Regions from separate parts of the Homo sapiens genome. Here all the other regions are linked to region 3. The links come from fine-mapping of genetic effects on gene expression. A gene starts in region 3. Each other region holds a variant in brackets. All regions are shown on one strand. Distances are between the middles of the regions.

Region 1 (5,156 bases), 42 kb before region 3:
CTTTATAGTAGCACCACAGGAAGCTGTTTCAGAAAAGTTAAGTAATTTATTGTAGGAAAACAGCTAATTCATGAATTCAATCTTAAGTCTGCCTGACTCTTTACAACCTCAGTTTCTGGCTGGGCGCAGTGGCTCACGCCTGTAATCCCAGCACTTTGGGAGGCTGAGGTGGATGGATCACTTGAGGTCAGGAGTTCACAACCAGCCTGGCCAACATGGTGAAACTCCGTCTCTACTAAAAATAAAAAATTAGCCGGGCATGGTGGCACATGCCTGTAATTCCAGTTACTCAGGAGGCTGAGGCAGGAGAATCGCTTGAACCCGGGAGGTGGAAGTTGCAGTGAGCCAAGACTGTGCCACTGCACTCTGGCCTGGGCGACAGAGCGAGACTCCGTCTCAAGAAAAAAAATTAGAAAGTAAATAAAACCTTGGTTTCTTTATCTGTACAATGAGGCTAATGATTCTTACTTGCAGAATTGTTGTAAGGATTAAACAAAAATAATGCACCCAGCATATCGAAAATACCTGATACAATATGGACTACATGGTAGCTGATTGTTATTATTATCATTCCCAGATATAATATGATTGAACCAGAGGCATTTTGTATGCACATATTAAAGGCTCCTAATGTGTATTACTAAACTGCTTTCCAGAAAACAGTTAAACAAAGCCCTAAGAACACTGCTAGGAAGACCTGTCTAAAATGCAGACCTGATCATGCCTCCCTGTTGTTTTCAGTGTCAATCTTAAACACACAGGACCACTACTACTTCTTTGGAGTCATCTCCCTCTTCTCCTACCACGTTCACTTCCTTCCAAAGTATTTCCTGTTCTCTCAGCTTTTTTGTGCCTCAGCATCTTCAAATATATAGCTCAGTCATCTGGCATGCCCTTTCTGTTTGTCTGTGCTAAGTCTTACCAGTATTTAATATCTCACTCTATTCCAGCTAATATAACAAAATACCATAGACTGGATGGCCTATAAACAATAGACATTTATTTCTCCCAGTTCTGGAGGCTGGAAGTCTGAGATCAGGTGCCAGCATGGTTGGGTTCTGGTGAGGGCCCTCTTCTGAGTTGCAGATTGCAACTTCTCACAGTGTTCTCACATGGTAAGAAAGATGGGAAGTTGGCCGGGCGCAGTGGCTCAAGCCTATAATTGCAGCACTTTGGGAGACCAAGGTGGGTGGATCACAAGGTCAAGAGATGGAGACCATCCTGGCCAACATGGTGAAACCCCGTCTCTACTAAAAATACAAAAATTAGCTGGGCATAGTGATGCGTGCCTGTAATCCCAGCTACTCGGGAGGCTGAGGCAGGAGAATCGCTTGAACCCAGGAGGCGGAGGTTGCAGTGAGCCAAGATTGTGCCACTGCACTCCAGCCTGGCGACAGAGCGAGGCTCCACCGCAAAAAAAAAAAAAAGAAAGAAAGAAAGAAAGAAAGATGGGACGTTTACTAGGTCCTCTTTTATTAGGGCACTAATCCCATTAGAGTCCTCAAAGGCCCCATTTCCTACTATCATCCACTTGGGAGGTTAAGTTTCAACATAATGAGTTTTAAAGTGACACAGTTATTCAGTCCGTAGCATTCCAAGCCTGATTTCCCCAACTCATGTCCTTCTCACATGCAAAATACACTCGTTCCATTCCAACAGCCTCAAAAGTCTCAACTCGTTCTAGCATAAACTCAAAGGCAGAAAGTCCAAAATCTCATGTAAATATCATGTAAATTAGATATGGTTGAGACTCGGTATTATTCATTCTAAGACAAATTCCTCACCAGCTGTGAACCTGTGAAATCAAACAAGTTAGGTGCTTCCAAAAACAATGATGGGACAGGGGCACGACAGATGTTCCATCTCTAAAGGGATAGGCTGAGAATGTTCCAAGTCTTTAAGTTCTCTGCCTTTGACTCGCAATTTCATCTTAAGTCATAGTCCTCCTCTCAAATTTTACTTTAAGCAGTCGAGAGAAACTAGGCCACTCCTTTAAACTTTGCTTAGATATTTCCTCAGTCAAATATCCAATTTCATCACTTGCAGGTTCTACCTTCTACAAAACACTGATGTGAGCACAACTTAGCCAAGTTCTTTGCCACTTTATAACAAGACTGGCCTTTCCTCTAGTGTCTAATAACATGTTCTTCATTTTCATCCGAGACCTCATCAGAATGGCTTTTATCATCCATATTCCCACCAGTGTACTGTTCAGGATGACTTACATCTTCTTTAAGATTGAGGCCTTCTCTACAGCTCTTCTCT[T/TCTC]CTTCTGAGCCCTCACCAGAACCACCTTTAAAAGTCAGGTCATGGCAATGTAGGCTTTTTCTAGCATGTACCTCAAAATTCTTTCAGCCTCTGTCTATTACCCATTCCACAGCCACATCCACATTTTTAGGTATTTATTACAGTGGCACTTGGTAACAAATTCAGTATTAGTTAGAGTTTAACATACAAGATGCTATACTGAGGTGGAATAAAAGGCCATCCAAAGGGCTAAATTTTGACATTTTCTCCAAACCATAGTCTTTCTTGTATGAATCACTATGAGTTTGGATAGCATATTATTATCATGGATTTTAGTGGCTGGTTGAAAATGAGAGGAAAACAAAGACAACAATGAATCTAGCCTGCAGAGATAACCCCACTTGGTATCTTAGCCAACAGTTCCCAATTATTTCCCCATCAAACCCCTAGTCTTCATTCCCTCTGCCTTCCCTATTCTCATCCTGTCTCAACCCCATCTGTCAAGAGGCTAGCAGAACCATAGTATCATAGAAAGGTTCAGGCATCAAAAATAAAGTTCAAGTGTGAACTTTGCCACCCTGTGACCTTGGGAAGTTGGCCATTTTTTTTTTTAAAGTGGGGATAACAGTTTCCTCCCTGCCTATCTGTATTAGGTCATTCTTGCATTGCTATAAAGAAATACTCGAGACTGGGTAATTTAAGAAGAAAAGAAGTTTAATTGGCTTATGGTTCTGCAAGCTATGCAAGCATGGTGCGAACATCTGCTTGGTTACTGGGGAAGCCCCAGGGAGCTCTTACTCATGGCAGAAGGTGAAGCAGGAGCTTGCATGTCAGATGGCAAAGCAGGAGCAACAGAGAGAGACACAGTTGGGGGTGAGGTACCACACACTTTTAAATGACCAGATATCATGAGAACTCACTCACTATGGTAAGTACAGCACCAAGCCATGAGGGATAGTGCTAAGCCATTCATGAGGATTCACCCCCATAATCCAATCACCTCCCACCAGGCCCACCTCCAAAACTAGGGATTACAATTCAACATGAGATTTGGGCAGTGACAAATATCCAAACTATTACTATATTACTATCCCATGGGAAGTGGCTGAAATGAGACAGCAGATGTGAAAGTGAACAGTGATGCTGTACACCAAAGTAAACACACCCTCCTCATTGCCAAGGGAGGCTGGACAGCAGGGAAATCAGGATTGGACAGGCTCCACAGTGGAACTGGCTCTGTGAGTGACCAGTGGCTGAGGAGCAGCTCTTTGCAGAGAGGGGCTAGCAGACCCTCTCTGGAGGCTTCCAGACCCTCGTGCCCACATGTAAAAGAGCTGGGCAAAGTGACAAAACCCCCTCTCCCAGAGGCCTCCCTTAAATGAACTTAAGTGATACTCCAACAAGGTGGAATAGACCCTCCATCATCTAGTATTTTTAAAACTGTCCTCAAGAAGGCTGACGAATTGTTTCTCAAATCTAAGGGCCCACTGCTGATCCTCATGAATATTAAAAAACAGCTACAATAGTGCTAACAAGGCAGGGCCTGAAGTTGGGGTCTGGGGTGGGGGCAGATCTAGTACTCTGCAACCTGTCGCCTTTTGTTCGCTCACTCACCTTGCAGCTCCCGGCTCCTCGGAGGACCTGCAACTCTTCACACCTGGAGGGTACTTTGGCCACTGGTGACTTGAATTCCACCTAGGAAACACACAAGAGATGAATCACACCTTATTTTCCACTGAGGGTTACAACAGAAGTGGCTTTATAGCAATTTTGGAAAAACTTGGGAGGAAACATTGCTCCTACCGCATTGCAGTGTTCTGGAAGAAAACAGGCCTAATTCATCCTCTTCCAGGTTTTGGAGAAGAGGAGGGAAGATGAAGGAATAGCGATGATAAGTCTGCTTAGTGACCCTGAATCCAGAGATTATGTCCAGCCTGATGGGAGCAGGCCCTTGTGCATGAGAAGGGGGTAGCCTCAGGGTTAATTGGACACTGCCCCCCTGCCCCCAGCAGAGCTCCAGCTCTCAGCAAGTGCTCTTGAAATTCTTTCCACCCAATCCACAGACGCTGTCTACACCACAGGAGCTCACCTTTGAAGATAGCGATGTAAGCATTGTGGCAAGAATCACTGCCTTCCCTGAGAAGGAAATGCAGTAGGATGTACAAGAAAGCCTAGGGGCTACATAAGGAGGGAAAGCTGAAAAACGATGGAGGAGGGACAGGCTTAGGGACAGGGAGAGGATGGGCTTCCTTGCACAGGACAGTTTGGGAGTGTTACGACTGAACCTGGAGAGCAATTTTACAGAATGCTTTGGCCACATGCTGCGTAGCATGGTCTGAGAGCATGCTTGAAATGACTGAAGGGAGCAGTAGTGATTACAAAAAGGGGATTGGGATTATCTATTGTATAATGCCAAAGCTCAAACCACAGCTAGACCTGAAGTCCAGATGTATATCACCAAGGAGGCTGGCCTCTGTGCCTCTCATATGCACAATTCATGGGAGGCAAATATTCATCAGCTGTTTCCTGTTCTATATGAGGTAACACAGCGCTCATGTTCATTCATTTGTTCAATGAATATTCACTCTGTGCAGGCACTTTTTTTAGGTGCCAAAGGCAGCAACAGGCAAATCCAGCAAGGTATTGTCCTTGTGGAGCTTATATTCCAGTGGGCAGAGACAAATAAAAATACACAGACCAAATAAGCACTTTTAGATAATGAAAAGTGCTGGAGCAAGATAACCCCCTCTCTAAGCCACCTGTTGGCACCCCTGTCCCCTGCTCCACTGGCATTGCTACCAGGATGCTGGAAGCAAACAAATGGGGAGACTTCACTCTCTGGTGTTTTCCCAGGCAGCAGCCCTCAGCAAAGCCAGTGCAGTGGGAAAACAGGAGAGGAAAGCTGCCCTGTC
Region 2 (5,156 bases), 130 kb before region 3:
CCTGCAGGCAAGGTAAAGTTGCCTAGACTGGGTGAAATAGCAGAACAAGGGCAAGGCCACAGTCTTCCCATCTCATCAAGCAGTGCTGGTGCTCTCTTGCACCAAAGGATTTTGGTTCCCTCTGGGCTGGAAGGACCCTCCAGAATCTCCTCATCCACACACATTCCTGCTCCGTCTTGGCCTCCCAGAGAGATAGTCAAATGCCATCATACACTGTAGAAATTTAGGGGCCAGGAGGGAGCATTTGGTCTGCTGCCTTGTTGAATGATTGGCCAAAGTTTCATGGCCAGGAAGTGATCAAGATGGGATAGTAAGAACTTCCTTTCAGGGAACTCCACTACCTCCCCCGAGCATCTGTTCCCACCCCACACAACCTCTTCCAAGAGTCTTTCCCATGCAGGCATGTACAGCAACTGAAGCCCTTTTTTCTTGTATGCTTTTCAGGTTGAGGGAGGAAGGGGGACTGTGAACAGCTGGCCACCATTCACTTACTAATAAGGCTTCAGAACCTTGAAGACTGTTATTAAAGCTCCCCCTCCACCCTCCCTTCTCCAGGCGAGGGAGTTGGTAAAGTGCTCAGAGCTCTTTGGAAAAATAAGGTGCTCCACAAATATAAGGTACTTATTATTTTCAGTTCCCCTCAGATCAAATTAGGTGTCAAGTTTTAATCTATCACCTGACACCTCTGATTGCTGGTTGCCAAGGCAGAATGACTTAGCTTTTCAAGAATCTAGAGAATAATTGCATTTATGATGCCACCGTTCCACACCTTCAACACACACTCTGCCATTTGACACAGCCTCCTGCACTTGTTTCTGAAACTCTGTGCTGCTGAACTGAACGCATTGCCTGGTCTATCATACTGAGTCCCAGAGCTCCTAGTGTGTGCTGGACATGCCGCAGATGTGTAGTAAAACCTTGGTGAGGGGTCACAGGCATCTTCGGAAATGACTTAGAGCTCTTCTACTCACAGGGTCATCCCTGGACCACCAGCATCAGCCTCACATGAGAACTTGCTAGAAACACAGAATCTCAGACCCCAGTCCCGACCTGCTGAAGCAGAGACTGCATTTTAAGAAGTTCCCCAGGAGAGTCCTATATATGTTAGGGTTCAAGGAGCGCTTGTTTAGCCGGGAACAGTGGTGGCTGAGAATCAAAATTCCCTGGGGAGCTGTTCGTTTTATTTTTTATTTGCAGGCTCTGAACCACTCTGGGAGAGAAGGCCCTGGCCCCTGGCCTCTGTTCCCTTTAAAAGCTCCACGTGTGATCCTGATGTTCACCCAGGTTTAGAATAATCAATTAGAGCTTAAATGTACCTTTGGCTAATATCTTAAAAAAAAGGAAAAACTCAAACTAGAAATCATATAGAAAAGCCCTGTTTACACATAAGCAATTCTGATTTAACTATGTATAGATTTGCCATCTCAGCCAGGCTTCCCGAGCCCACAGACACACCAAGGCTTCCGTGGGCCTCTTAGCAGCCACACGCCGCTGATGATTTCAGCCCCGTCCCACAAAGCAACGTCTCTGGAGGATGACTAAACTGATGCTTCAAGCTGTGATGATGGTCTTCTGAGATGTCTTCACCTCCACCACCAAACTGTTCCACCTCTTCTTCTAGATCCCAGGCTCTGTGCAAAACAGGAGCCTTAGAAACGACACCCCCTAATGACAGCAGAGAGCGTAGTTCCCCAAATTTGTCACCATCCATTCCCATTAATCCCAGACCACCTGGAGGCTTAGCCCTAGCACACACCAAAATTTAGATACTGGGGGACAACTAAATGTCTGTGAAAAGGACAGGTGACCCTGGAGAAGTTAGGCCTTCCCTTTCTTCACTTTTGAATGAGATGGCCATACTAGATGGGAGATTTTCAAAGGGAAACTCTTTTGTCTAACAAAATTGTAGCTGACCTCCAATATGCTGAAAAAGGCAAGGCAGCTCTGACGGAGATGGGGGATGAGGGACCTGGATCCGTGACCACTAAACCTTCCCTTGCCGCTCCCCAATCTCTGGGGAATGTCAGTCTGATTCCAGGGCTCCAAGGAAGAGAGTCTGGAAACCCCTGGATTAGGTAATCCCTAACATCCCTCCTGGTGCTTAACTTCTGCAAAGAAGATAAATCTGCTTGGTGCTGCCAACAACAACAACAAAAGTAAAAAAAAGAACAGAAGAGAAAGATCGTGTCGTAAACTCCAAAGTTTAGAAAGGAATTACTGCTGGATTCACCCATACCATTTGCTTCCATTATTAGTTTGGTGTACAGGCAATCTACTACCTACATTTCAAAACTTGCATTTTCTCATTTGTAAGTGCGTCAGGCACAGTAATTTTGAGAAATAACAGGTAGTAGGCAAATTCTTGAGAAACCCTTGAATCTGGCTTCCATTTTGTTCCTTATTTTTCTTGGTAATCAGAAGGATGCAGATTAACAAAAGACAGACGGGTGACCCAGACATGCAAAACTACAGAGAAACAGATTTGGGTGAAAGGGATCATGGATCTTAGGGCCAAAAGGGTCAAAGAAATGGACAACTCCAAGAGTCTGCCTTCATAGCAATGTGGTATCCATTCATTCATCCAGGAGTTGTTGGTCTCATGCAAAGCATCCAGGTTATAGCAACGAAGATGCAGCTTCTGTTCTTAGGCAGCACGGAGTCCAGTGGGAGACACAGGCCAGTAAATAAGCAATTTGT[T/A]GCAGCATGATAAATATGTGATGGGATATGCAAGGTTTTATGGGCTTGGAGCAGAGAGCTGAACATAAGCTTCATGAGGGCAGGAGCTTTGTCTCTTTTATTCACTGCTAGGATTCCCAGGCTCTAGAATAGTGCCTGCCGGTGTTTTGAACAAATACGTGAACAAACCATGAATCCTGCTGGTGGAAGGGGCGGGACATCCTGCTTGGCTGTTCTGTGAAGGAATCAGCCGAGGCCTGGCAAAAAGCAATTTGTAGCTTGTCCACACTGGCAGTGGCCTTGAGAAGCCTGCACTGGGGTGGTGGAAACACTAATGAAAAAAGCATGTACAAAACGACATACTGCAAGTAGGAATCATAAACATAGAGTCTCCCAGATAATTCAGAATGCAAAGATAACACAGTTGCTCTTGGGCCCTGCCAAGACTCTTGATTTTGAGGTGAGCCTGGAGCCCTCACATTCTGGATCAACCTCCCCTTGTGTGAAGAGCTGTGACAGAGGCCCCCAAACATTGCATGGTGTGGCTCCCGGGCAGGGCATAGCTGGGCCTACTGGAGCTGGAAAGACTCAGGGGATGGGGAGAGACGCTGGTGAGAATGAGGGAAGAATCTGGTTGTGACTCAAACACTGATTTCTCCAGGACCCTTCCTTGACACTCCACTGTGTCCCCTCCCCCAATCCAGTCCCACTCAATCATGGCCCAGCAATGACACAGCTACTGGCATAATCTGGATTTTCAGTGTCCCTCTCTCCATGAGGGCAGGGACTGTGTCTGTCTTGTTCACTTCTGGGTCCCCAGGAACTGGCCTGGTACTGGGAACCCAGACGAACAGAGGAACACATGCCTGCATCAGTTTGTTCCTGGAAAAGGCAAGTTCCGAATCAGATTTTGAAAATGCAGAGGCCCACGTGGGAGATGGACAGAGAAGAAAAAAGAAGCCACAGTCAAGCCTAAATGCTCCTAGGAAGGTCGCCAGCTCACCTCCACGCTGCTCAGCCACCGCCGGACCGACAGGAACGACTGCTTGTCTGTGAGATCGTACATGACGATGACACCATCTGCCTTTCTGAAGAACTGCTGGGTGATGCACCGGTACCTGCCACAGAAGGGCCACGGGTCAGGCATGCACGGCCTTCCCTCTGGAGCCCAGAACTTCGGGCAGCTCCTCACCTCTCCTGCCCAGCCGTGTCCCACAGCTGCAGGGCCACCTGAGAGTTGTCCACATTCAACGTCTTCACACGGTAATCAATGCCTGCAGGGTGAAATGGGCCTGTCAGGGCTGCCCTGGGCCAGGGGCACCTCACTTCCAAATCAGGAAACAATGCTTCCAACATCTGAAATCACATCAGGCCCAAGGTGACAACCCTCCATGTGCAGCTCGTGGGAGGCAAAATGGAGAAAAGAACAGAGCACTGGATGGGGAGGCATGGGACCTCAGCTCTGGTCCTGTCTCTGCCACTTATTAGCTGTGGAACATTGATCAAATCACTTAACCACTCTGAACTGTGGGCTCTTCACTGTAATACAAGCCATACACTCTTTCTTTCCCTCCCTCCCTCCCTCCCTCTCTCCTTCCCTCCCTCTCTCCTTCCCTCTCTCTCTCTTTCCCTCCCTCTCTCCCTCTCTCCTTCCCTCCCTCTCTCCTTCCCTCTCTCTTTCCCTCCCTCCCTCCCTTCCTTCACCCTTCCTCCCTCCCTCTCCCCCAACTCTCTCTTTCTTTCTCTCTTTCTTTCTCTCTCTCTCTTTCTCTCTTCCTCTCTTCCTTCCTTTCTCTCTTTCTTTCTTTCTTTCCTTCTTTCCTAAAATTCTTTCAGAGGCCCCCTAGTAAAATTCAAATGTCCTAGGGGTATGGCCTCCATCAACCAATCCAAAGGTATGTGGAGGAGGAGGAAGAAGAAGGAGAGGAGGAGGAATAGGAGGAGGAGGGTAGGAACTGGCAGGTAGAGGAAAGGACAGAACAGAAGGGGTAAGAGAAAAAATCACAGGCAACTTTCACCCTTGAGATGGATTAGAGCTCCTAATCCTACCACTGGGCTGTTCACAACCATCTCTCCAGGGGTGTGACCCTACCTGGGGTCCTCAACCCCAGAGAGAGGGGGCAAGGTCAGTGAAGTGCATTCTGCATCCCACAGCAGCCCTCATAGGTCAGGACCTCAACACAGGTGTTTTGATACAGGTATTCCCCACTCCTGCATCCTGTAAGAATGTTTGCAAAGGCATAAAGAGGTTCGAAAGTACATCCCCCCACCACCACCATAAGTTCCAGATCTTAGAACTTTAGGGCATCTCCCGCAACCTTCAGAAAGGCCTCTGGAGGGCTCAGGAAGACAAACAGCAACAGCAGCTTGGACAGATAGAGACAGAAGAGACCAAACAGATAACAAAGAGGCAGTAAATGGAAACGGTCATCCCAGCCACTGCCGCTGGGCAAAGGCTAGTGCATTAAGACCCACGAGTG
Region 3 (5,117 bases):
CTCTTCTGCTCTGGTCCCTGACATTTATTCAGTTACCAGATTGCATCTACTCCATTGTTCTCTGGGTTAAAATCCCCATCCCACCACTTATTTTCTGTATGACCTTGGATAAACCACCTAACCTCTCTCTCAGTTTCCTCCTCTACAATATGGAACAATCATAGCAATCTCCTCATGAGGTTGTCAGGAGGATTAAATGAGATTAAACATGAAAATCTCCTACCACAGGCCCTGGCACATGGCAGATGACTTTTCCCCTACCCCCAAGCCTTTTAGCCCCTTCCTGTCCATTCCCACCAGCCCTGTTCAACCCCTCATGGTGACTGCAATGGGCTTCTTCCCAGGTTCTCTTCCCACAGCTTCCTCCACTGCAGTACATCCCATACCCAGGTGCAGATGACATGTTCTTCTGAACCCAGCTCCAGGAACAACACTTCCCTTCTTAGAAACCATCAAAATATCCCTAGGCTTAATAATGAAGTTTCTAGACTCGTAACACTCCAAGCCTCTGCCATCTCTCCCAGGCAGCACTCCTCACCGGATTGTCCACTACATTACTCCTTGCTCCTCAGGTACAACCCACCTTCACGGCTTTGCTCAGCCGTCCTTCCCCAAGATGCCCAGACCCAGCCTCCTATTCAAGGCCCGGCCTCAGTGCCACATCCAGGACGCCCTCTGCGAGTCACTCCTTCCAGAAGTAACCTCCCTCCTCCAAACTCCCTCTACACACTTTATAGTATAGAACCGAGAGGTGACAGGACCTCGGAAGCCGTACCTGAAGCCTCTCACTTATAGAACCGAGAGGTGACAGGACCTCGGAAGCCATACCTGAAGCCTCTCACTTATCACTTAAAAACTGCGCATGAAGTAGCTCTTATGGGCAAATACTAAACCATGAGGTTGTACATATTCATTTCACCTGAAAAGGGGCATGAACTCTGGACCCTTCAACAAAAATGCTGATTCCACGTGGAGCAAACTGCTCTGATTTCATATCCCTATGCCCACATCCTTGATAAAAAGACTCTTCGGTACATGCTGCTTTCTTCCAGAGACAAGGAACCCATCACCTCATGAGTTAGGTTCTTCCTCCTGACCCTCTGACCACCCTGGGGACTCCCACGGATTGGCTCTTTCTGTCCTCTTGAGTCACACAGAACGAATTCCTTTGAGACTCCTGGTGTCCTCCACAGAGCCAAACAGGGCAGGTTCCTAAGCACACTGTGTAAACAGATAAATGAACTCAGAGGGCTTTCCCACGTGGCAGGGTACATTCGCTGCATCCCGTGCATGCATGGGTGCACAGACACACACTCGCACACACACGGACACACACACACACACACGGACACACACACACAGACACACACACACACGGACACACACACACACGGACAGAGTCAGCACAACGCCTCTGAGCCACACAGCCAGGCCAGCACACGCGGGGGCCAGGGCGGAAGCCAAGCCCCAGCAGCCGCCCACTTCCTGACCTCCTTCCTTTGCTCTGGGAGGTTCTCTCTCTGTGTCTTTCTGACTGTCTGTCTCGGTTCTTTGTTTCTCGGCATGGCAACAGTTGTGGATGCTGCCTGCGTGGCCAGGGCTCCTAGTAGCACTGACCTGCAAGGTAGGAGTTTTGGTTCTTAGACTTGAGACCTTGGGCAAGTCACTTTACCATTCTGAGCCTCAGTTTCCTCATCTGTGAAATGAAGAGGCTGGATGAGGCTGGAGGGTTCCTAAGGTCCTTTCCTGACCAAAACCCTAGTGCTTCTCGGCTCTCCTCCAGTCCCGTTACCGAGTGACAGGGAGGGGAGCAAGGGCCAGGCCAGGCCTGGGGGTGGCAGGGGAGCCAGCTGTTCCCCCCCAAGGGCACACAGCCTCCATCCAGGCCCTCTGCGAGTTCCATGTGCGGCAGACACGCGCTCACACTTCGCAGCCGGAGGAGCAGGCAGGAAGCGCCGCCCCCCGGCCGCCCCGGCCGCCCACCCTCAACCTTCCTCCACGTTACCTTGGGCGTGTAGGCTTCCCGTGGACCTGCCCGCGCCGCCCGCTCGGCTCTCAGCTGTCAAGCAGCCGCCTGCTCCGCCCGACTCTTTCCGCTCCGAGCCGCGCGGGCTGGACCAGCCCCTCAGCGGAGCTGAACGGGAAGCGGCGCCCCCTGGACGCCCTCCGGGACGTGCGCGCGCCAAGCGGTGGGGTCCGGGCCTGCAGGCGCGACCTGAGGCCGCCAGGGAGGCTGGGTGGCGAGGGCGGGGCGGCTGCCGACTTAGCCGGCCTGACTGGTCGGGCTTCCGGGGTCCCGCTGCTCCCTAGGCCCCTTGCCCCGATTCAGGCTCCCAAGGTGGGGCATCAGTCCGGCCCTCGCTGGCTCACTGGAGAGGTGGTGTCTGGGAGTGCACCCCCGAAAACCCGGCAGCAGCCCGGCGTCACTCCGGCTGTTACCTCTGGGAGCAGAAACTAAAGGGGATCCTTATTCTTTATACTTTTCTGACTCTTCTATATATTCTACTGTGGGCATGAATCGTTAAAAACAAAACAAAACACCAAAAACCCAATACGTATTTGTTAATAAAGCACTGAGTAAATCTTCAAAGGCCTCCCGAGGTGCTCCGGCTGCAGGATAACCCCTCAGCTTAGCGCACAAGGCAAGGCCCACCCTGCCCTCTCCGGCCACAACCTAATTTTCCAGCCTCACCCTCTCTCCCTCACACACACACAACACTTTCGCTCTGGACACACTAGCTGTTGCCAAACACCAGCTGTTCTTCATGGCTGCTGGGAGTTCTTCTTTTTGCCTGGAACACCCTCCCCTTTCATCTCTGCCTGTTGAAATCCTACTCATCCATCCAGGCCCCTCTGAAATGTCACCTTTTTGGAGAACCCTTCCCCAGACACTGCCCCTGCAGAGTGCCCCAGTTCTTTCCTGGCAAGCCCATCTTTCTGGTACTGGTTTATGTAGTAGCATCCCCCTCTCACACGCGCTAAGTCCTATTCCAAGGTGGAGAGAAACAAATTAGCACTTACTGAGCAGCTGTTATAAATTACTCTGTGGAGTCCTTTCTTCTCCTTGCAGCCCAGCCAGCCACTAGCCCACAACCTCCCTCCACCCTGCCAGAGTTTCAGAAGGCTGTCAGGGGCTCTGAGGCCTGCCCTCTGGTGTGTCCCTACTGCGTGCCTTGGCTTTTCTGGCTCTGTCCTGGGTATGCTTCCCTGTGTCAACTCCCAAGGTCTGCAAGCTGGTGGCTTGACCTTCTCTCAGCCTTATGTGAGGAAAGAAGGACATTTCATTATCAGAATCTGAGAAGTGGAAGGGGCCTCAGAGATTATCCAGTGTAAAGCCTGCCCACCCATTTTACAGAGCAGAAAACTGTGACCAGAGAGATAAGGTCAGAGGCATCGGAGGTACCTACCATTGTTATTGTTGTTTTTAATAGTGTTAATACTTGCACGTTTAGATCGCCTTTCACTTCTAAATCAATGCGTTGTCATTCATTTGCCCCTTACAGTCTCAGAGGTATTACAGTGGTTAGTGCACAGACTCTGGAGGCCAAAGCCCTGGGTTTGAATCTCAGTGCTCCAACTTGCCAGCTACGTCCTTGGCAAGTTACTGGAACTTTCTCCATCAGTACAATGTGGATAGTAACAGCTCCTGCATCATGGGGTGTTCTATGAATCGAAATAAATGTGTATCTTTAAAGGGCTTAGAATAGTAGTAGGTTCATTAAAAATGCCAAATGTATTTGCTCTTATCAAATTTTTGTTATTGTTAATTGTATCACTTCACAGTTGGAATAACAGAGGCTCAGAAAGGCTGAGACTCATCCAAAAAATTGCTGCTTTGAGGATGGTTTCTCACCAAACTCCATGCAGTCATCTTTGTCTCTGATGCCATTCTGCTTCCTGTTCCCTTGTGTCTGAGTCTAACCACCTATTTAATAGGGAAGAAAAGCAACTGTCCTTTAGCCCACCTCAGAACACCTAGACATTTCATGTTGCAAACATTAACCACATCTTCTGGCTTCTATGGGGATGTCTCTAATTTGCTGGCGTTTTCTTTAACAGAACACCACGCCTCATGGTGCCCTTCAGAATCACAGAGCCATCACATTAACTGCTGCAAGTTCAGCTTGTACATTCGTGCCTCTTTTACTCTTGGCCCGTGGCAGAAAAGCGACAGGGAAAAGATGGTTCTTCCAATGTATGGATGTAGGAAACTGAGGCACAGTTGATACTCACTGATTGGCCCCAGGCTATGGAGCTAGCCTGGACCATGGGAAGGATGAGGATCTCCACCTCCTCTTTCCCCATGATTACATGATTCAGTGTTGCAGGAGAAACCCAAACTCGTTTATTCAATGAGGATTTATTGAGCTCTCTCTAGGTGACGAATAAGACCGAGGCAAGGCTGGCTTCCTGGGCATATGACCTATGAAGTCACATAGGCCAGAGGTCCCCAACCTTTTTGGAACCAGGAACCTGTTTCGTGGAAGACAATTTTTCCATGGACCAGGGGTGGGAGTGGGGGGTGGGAATGGTTTCAGGATAAAACTGTTCCACCTCAGATCATCAGGCATTAGTTAGATTCTCATAAGGAGTGTGCAAACTAGATCCCTCACATGCACAGTTCTCAATAGGGTTCACGGACCAGTACCCCATTACCGGTTTGTGGCCTGGGGTTGGGGACCCCTGACATAGGCCACTCACTTAGAAGGGCTTCATACAGAGTTTAATGCTGTCCTGCCACCTTCTTGAAATCTTAACAATTTTTGAACAAGGGGCCATATAAGTTGTATTTTACACTGGACCATTCAAGTTGTACAGCTGGTCTGGACCTAGGCTCTTCCCTAGGAGCTCTGTTTCACAGGGAATCAGCCAGGGAGTTGACAACTGCAGTTCAGTACGATGGGGGTTGTGACAGAAGCAGGGTAGCCGTGAAAGAAGAACAGGACCTTGGCCAGTATTCAGCTCACTTGGGTCATCCTCCCCAGCTGTGCAACCTGCCCAGCTGCCAATGACTTACCACTGTGCTCCTTGGTGGGAGGATGGCCTTGGTTTAGCACCAGGGCCTGTAGCCCCAGACAGCAGCTGCAAACCCTGCCACCCTAAGAGGCCACTGCTAG
Region 4 (5,156 bases), 25 kb before region 3:
CACAAAGAATGTCAGAGACCTTGGAGATCATTTAACCCAGTGGTGCTCCACCCTATCCAATCAATGCCCTATTTTTGTAACAAATATTTAGAAACACCATCTTTACCACCTGAAATACAATTCCTAGAAAAGTCGGTCGACCCAAACGCATAAAGTAGCCCTAATTTTAATAAAAGGATAAAAAGGAAATGTGATTAATATATATAAATACATACTATATGTATATTTTATATATATACGTATATACACAGAGAGAGAGAGAGCGAGCACACACTTGGCATGTCATCTTGTGCAGGAGCCATGCTAATCTTCTTTGTATCATTCCAATTTTAGTATACGTGCTGCCAAAGTGAGCACAGAAATGTGATTCTTAATAAAATAATATGTCTGTCAATATGTACGTGCTCATGCATGCCTGCACTGGAACACATAATGAAGTAGTCAACACTTCCACCTACCTATAATGGTTAAGTTTAGATTTAACAGAAGACAAATAGAAGCCACTTCATATAAGAAGTACAAGGAAATAAAAGATCAGAGGGATATAGGAGGACAATAGAATAAAGAAGTGTTACAATGAGTTACCCCCCTTTCCTGGCCGTATATGATAACAGGAAGAAGGAAATAACCTTCACTGAGGTACAGATAACAAGCCAAATCAAATTACAAATGTGCAAGCAGAGGAAACAAGGAAGCACAGGATCCTGTCTCGTGAGCTCAGTCTTACGTATAAGTGTAGCGTCATGATAATTTATTACGCTGTGATATGGGGCAGGATAGTGACAAAGTGTCACAGAAAACATGTTTCCAGTCTGGAAATCCCACCCACTGTGTTGAGGCATATATTCGGTCTTTAGCAGTAAAGAAAAAAAAAAGAAAGAAAAGAAAGAAAGAAAAAAAAAAGTGGCTGGGCGTGGTGGCTCACACTTGCAATCCCAGCACTTTGGGAGGCCAATGCGGGTGGATCACAAGGTCAAGAGATTGAGACCATCCTGGCCAACATGGTGAAACCCCGTCTCTACTAAAAATACAAAAATTAGCCGGGCGTGGTGGCACACCCTGTAGTCCCAGCTACTCGGGAGGCTAAGGTGGGAGAATTCCTTGAACCCGGGAGGCAGAGGTTGCAGTGACCTGAGATCGCACCACTGCACTCCAGCCTGGCAACAGAGTGAGACTCTGTCTCAAAAAAAAAAAAAAAAAAAAGCTTTTAAAATGACATCCTTATAGTATGGGCGGTGAGAAGAAGAGGATGGATTGGGAAAAGTTGTTGGGTAAATCTTGAAGGAGAATATCAGAGTAAGAAGGAAGAACAAAAGGCAACCCCAAAGAAGTAACCATGATAGCTAATTTTTGCAAGAGATTTCTTATCATTGTACTACAAATATAAATATATGTGATAAGAATATTATTTTTAAAACAGCTTTTATAAACAAGTTTGAGGCGCCTCTGCTAATTTAAACTAGTATCTAATTCTACATCGGCTGGATGAAGTCTCAGATTTCCTGTTACAGACCTGCGCATGGGTTCCTTGCTTTGCGGTCACTGCATATTGTACTGTGCCCTTTTCAGTTCAGTGTATATTTGGAAATGCTCTGATCTAGACAGAATGCATGAAGCAGGGAGATCATCTCGTCATTTCGAGGTTTTGTCTTTATTCCATTTAGGCTTCTCTTCCTAAAACAACCATTTCCTAAATACCGGGCTTTTGGCTTAACTTCTTTGAAAGTGTGAGAGGCATTACTCTAGGGGACAGCCTGACCCCATTAGAAACACTCGCCAAACAAGGGCTGAAAAACTACCTATTGCATACTATGTTCGTTATTTGGGTGATGGGTTAATTAGAACCCCAAACCTCGGCATTATGCAATATCTCCATGTAACAGACTTGCAGGTGTACCTCCTGAATCTAAAAAAAAAATAAAATAAAATAAGGAATACTGATCAAGTGTAACCTCATTCATTTCTGTAATGAGGAAACAGGCCCAAGAGGGTAGGCCAACTGTAAATTTTGCTCTCCTTCCTGTCACTAAGTTCCTTGAGGGCAAGGAGGGTATGGGATACTTCTTTTGTATCTGCACACAGCTGCCAGCACAGAGCAGCACACATACCTGTCTGTGGCCCTAGACGTGCCTGCTGTCTGTATTCCATCAGGACTCTGGAGTCTCCTTTTCAACCTGAAAACCACTCGTTTCTAATTACTCATCCATAGGAAACACAGGCAACGGATCCCCAGAAGTCACTTGGGACTGAGTTTCAACACTTTTGTTTCACACAGTTTCAGCACTCACACCAGCTGCAGCTGAAGACCATAGCACTTCAATGAAAAGCAACTGACTCCCTCCCCAAC[C/A]CCTCTGCCCGTAGGCTGCTGTGGTTAGCACTGCACTCAGAGAAAGAATAAATAAAAAGCAAAAGCCCCAGTTGTTCTAAGATAACCACAGAGATGACAGATGCTGTTGCATGCAAACTTGCGGGAGAAGAGAGATAAACAGCACATTACAAATCCAACAAAGCATGGTGACGAGAAGCCTTGGCGGGCAAGTCCCGTTGCTGAGGTGTGACTTCAGAGATCAAGTGGAATGTGCCCTCTTGGTCCCATCCTCCCCTCACCCCTGCACTCTTCCTCTTTCAGCTGGCTGGGTTTAGAATTTCTTCAGTAGGGAAGAGGATTTTGCCCCGCTGGAAGAATGCTAACTCTCAGGATGAGTGATACTTTGGGAGACCCCCAGCCCCCAGCTTACAGGATAAACAAATGGCCAGGAATGAGAAAAGCTGAGGTGGAGCAGCAAAGGGAGGGAGGGTTCCTTTGGCCCACCTTTCAACCCCGAGTGGCCTCCAGAGAGCTGCCAGTTGTGGTCATGTTCATCCTGGGCTGCGGGCAGAAGGATGGCTCAATACCTTAGCTCATAGCCACCACTTCTGGGTCCCACTTCCTTCCTTCATCAAGTAGTGTAAAATGACGAGGACCCAAGACAGCTGGAAGCCACTCGCCTTGTTGTCCATGGTTGCTCCATGGCGTATTTGTCTCTTTTGTCACATTCTGGACACAACCCAACGCATCCATGTCACCAATACCACATGTAGCTGGTGGCACTGCAGCTTTCTGTTGACCTGCCTGAACTAGCCTCCAGGCACCAGGCTTGTCACTCACACCGAGCGCAGTGCCTGGCATTCAGAAGGTGCTCAATACATGTTCTTGGATTGAAAGAGCAAAAGGGCAGGGGAGCCAATTCCACTCTATGAAATGGGAAAAGCTGTCAAGGAACAGCCGTCACGTTAGTTATGAGACCACAGACGCATTGTCACCCACCTTTTTTGCAGTATGTAGCCATCTGGCCCATTTTCAGAGCTGCTCTTATCTTTGTCACGACTATCATCTCCACAGCATCAGTAATGACAGACTTAGAAGGTGAGAGGCTTAACTGTAAACCACTCCTTATTTAAAAAGACTTTGGGGCCGGGTAAGCTGGCTCATGCATGTAATTCCAGCACTTTGGGAGGACGAGGCAGGCAGGTCATGAGGTCAAGAGATCAAGACCATCCTGGCCAATATAGTGAAACCCCATCTGTACTAAAAATACAAAAGTTAGCTGGATGTGGTGGTGTGCACCTGTAGTCGCAGCTACTTGGGAGGCTGAGGCAGAAGAATCACCTGAACCCGGGAGGCAGAGGTTGCAGTGAGCCAAGATTGCATCACTGCATTCCAGCCTGGGTGACAGAGCGAGACTCTGTCTCAAGAAAAAACAAAAAGACTTTGGGAGCAGCATGATAGATTGGCTAAAATGTCAGGTTCTAGTGACAGAAAAACCTGGGTTCTGATCCTAGTTCTTCTGTGTGCGAGTTATGAGTCTTGGTGAAGCCACTTCACTCTGCTACTGTTTCCTTGTCTGGAAAAGTGAGCTAGTGCTACCACTGCCTTGGGGGGTCTGCTGAGAGAATCCATGTAATGGAGCAACACTTCTGACTGTCTTGTATTTCATTTTTATTGCTGGTCTCCATGCAATTACTCAGATAGTGCACAAAAGCAAGAAGAGAGCAGAGTTCTTTCCCTTCCACTTTTCAGCTCCCGAGATGAAAGCCTGGACATGGCAAGGCAGGGGCTGCAATCTCAAGCATACAGAAGATTAACAGAAATGGGCCGAGTGGGCAGGGGCCGATGAAGAAGAATCGCTTTCATATTAAGTCTGCCCTCCTCCCTCTGCTGGAAAAAGACAGCCTCCTTGGTTTTCAGTTTCCCCCTTGAAGAGACATGAGTACATGAGTGATTTCCCTTCCTCCTTAATACTCTATGAGAGAAACAGCACAATGTTGCTAGATGGCAGTCAACGCTCAGGCTGAACGCAAGAGGGTCAGCAAGAGGTGGTGGGGAAGATGCCAGAGCGGGGCAGGGAGGTCTCTTTAAAAGGACAGCTGCTACCCAACCCAACCAGTTGTCCACATACTAGAACTGAGTGTTTCCAGTTCTGTTGATTATTCAAAGATTTTTCAGAATTTTTAAATGTTACACACGTTCAGGGTCAACATGAAATGGCAGGTTTATTCCGTGCAGTGTTTCTTGTAATATTAACAGCAAATGACTAAAAACAACCTGTGTTCATCAGTAGGGGATTGCTAAATTATGGTAAATCCATACAATGGGATACTATGCCCCTGTAAAAAAAGAATGAGGAAGCTCTCCACATACTGAGAGGGAAAGATCACCAAGATAAATCGAGTGAAAAAGGCAAGGTTAAAAATAGTGTGTAGAGTCTGTTATAATTATGTAAGAAGTAGAGGGATGAGGCAGATATATATTTGTACTGACTTTTATCTGCAAAAAGAAATCCTGGAAGGTTGTATAGGAAACTAATAAAAGTGGTTACAAGGGAGGGGCAGGGCAGGACTGGCCAATGGAGGCAGGGATAAGATTTCGCCGAATACCTTTCTATAGCGCTTTAATTTTTGAACCACACAAATGTATTGCTTATTTGAAAAATAATACAAAAACACTGTATACACCAGCTACTGGGAAGAAAACACATCTACAGGCTACGAACAGCCTGCAGGCTTCTGGGTTGCACCTTCACATTAAGGGCTCCAAAACTGGAGAGGCAGAAAAGTTGGCAGCATTGGATCCAAGCTTTACTAGGTGTGGAGACAAGTAGGTTGTTCAGTATCTG

The links. PIP is the estimated chance that this variant, and not a neighbour inherited with it, causes the effect.
Region 1: its variant is the best candidate, but not a certain one, in a credible set for the expression of CRACR2A in NK cells (Schmiedel 2018, PIP 0.70).
Region 2: its variant is the best candidate, but not a certain one, in a credible set for the expression of CRACR2A in whole blood (INTERVAL, PIP 0.86).
Region 4: its variant is the best candidate, but not a certain one, in a credible set for the expression of CRACR2A in blood mononuclear cells (TOPMed, PIP 0.89).

Annotation. Positions count from the first base shown.
Region 1 is chr12:3,709,379-3,714,534 of GRCh38, forward strand. CRACR2A (calcium release activated channel regulator 2A) reads right to left here. Exons shown (of 20, transcript NM_001144958.2): 3 at 3,859-3,939. Among named protein-coding and RNA genes, the nearest start is that of CRACR2A, 41 kb to the right of the region's middle. The variant T/TCTC (reference allele first, on the strand shown) is at 2,266.
Region 2 is chr12:3,623,757-3,628,912 of GRCh38, forward strand. It overlaps CRACR2A (calcium release activated channel regulator 2A), which reads right to left. Exons shown (of 20, transcript NM_001144958.2): 16 at 3,869-3,950; 17 at 3,680-3,794. Among named protein-coding and RNA genes, the nearest start is that of CRACR2A, 130 kb to the right of the region's middle. The variant T/A (reference allele first, on the strand shown) is at 2,698.
Region 3 is chr12:3,751,010-3,756,126 of GRCh38, forward strand. It overlaps CRACR2A (calcium release activated channel regulator 2A), which reads right to left and starts at 2,100. Exons shown (of 20, transcript NM_001144958.2): 1 at 2,006-2,100. RefSeq lists a silencer at 1,835-2,334.
Region 4 is chr12:3,725,971-3,731,126 of GRCh38, forward strand. The region is part of intron 2 of CRACR2A (calcium release activated channel regulator 2A); the gene reads right to left. It also overlaps the pseudogene RNU6-174P. Among named protein-coding and RNA genes, the nearest start is that of CRACR2A, 25 kb to the right of the region's middle. RefSeq lists a silencer at 2,867-2,966. The variant C/A (reference allele first, on the strand shown) is at 2,348.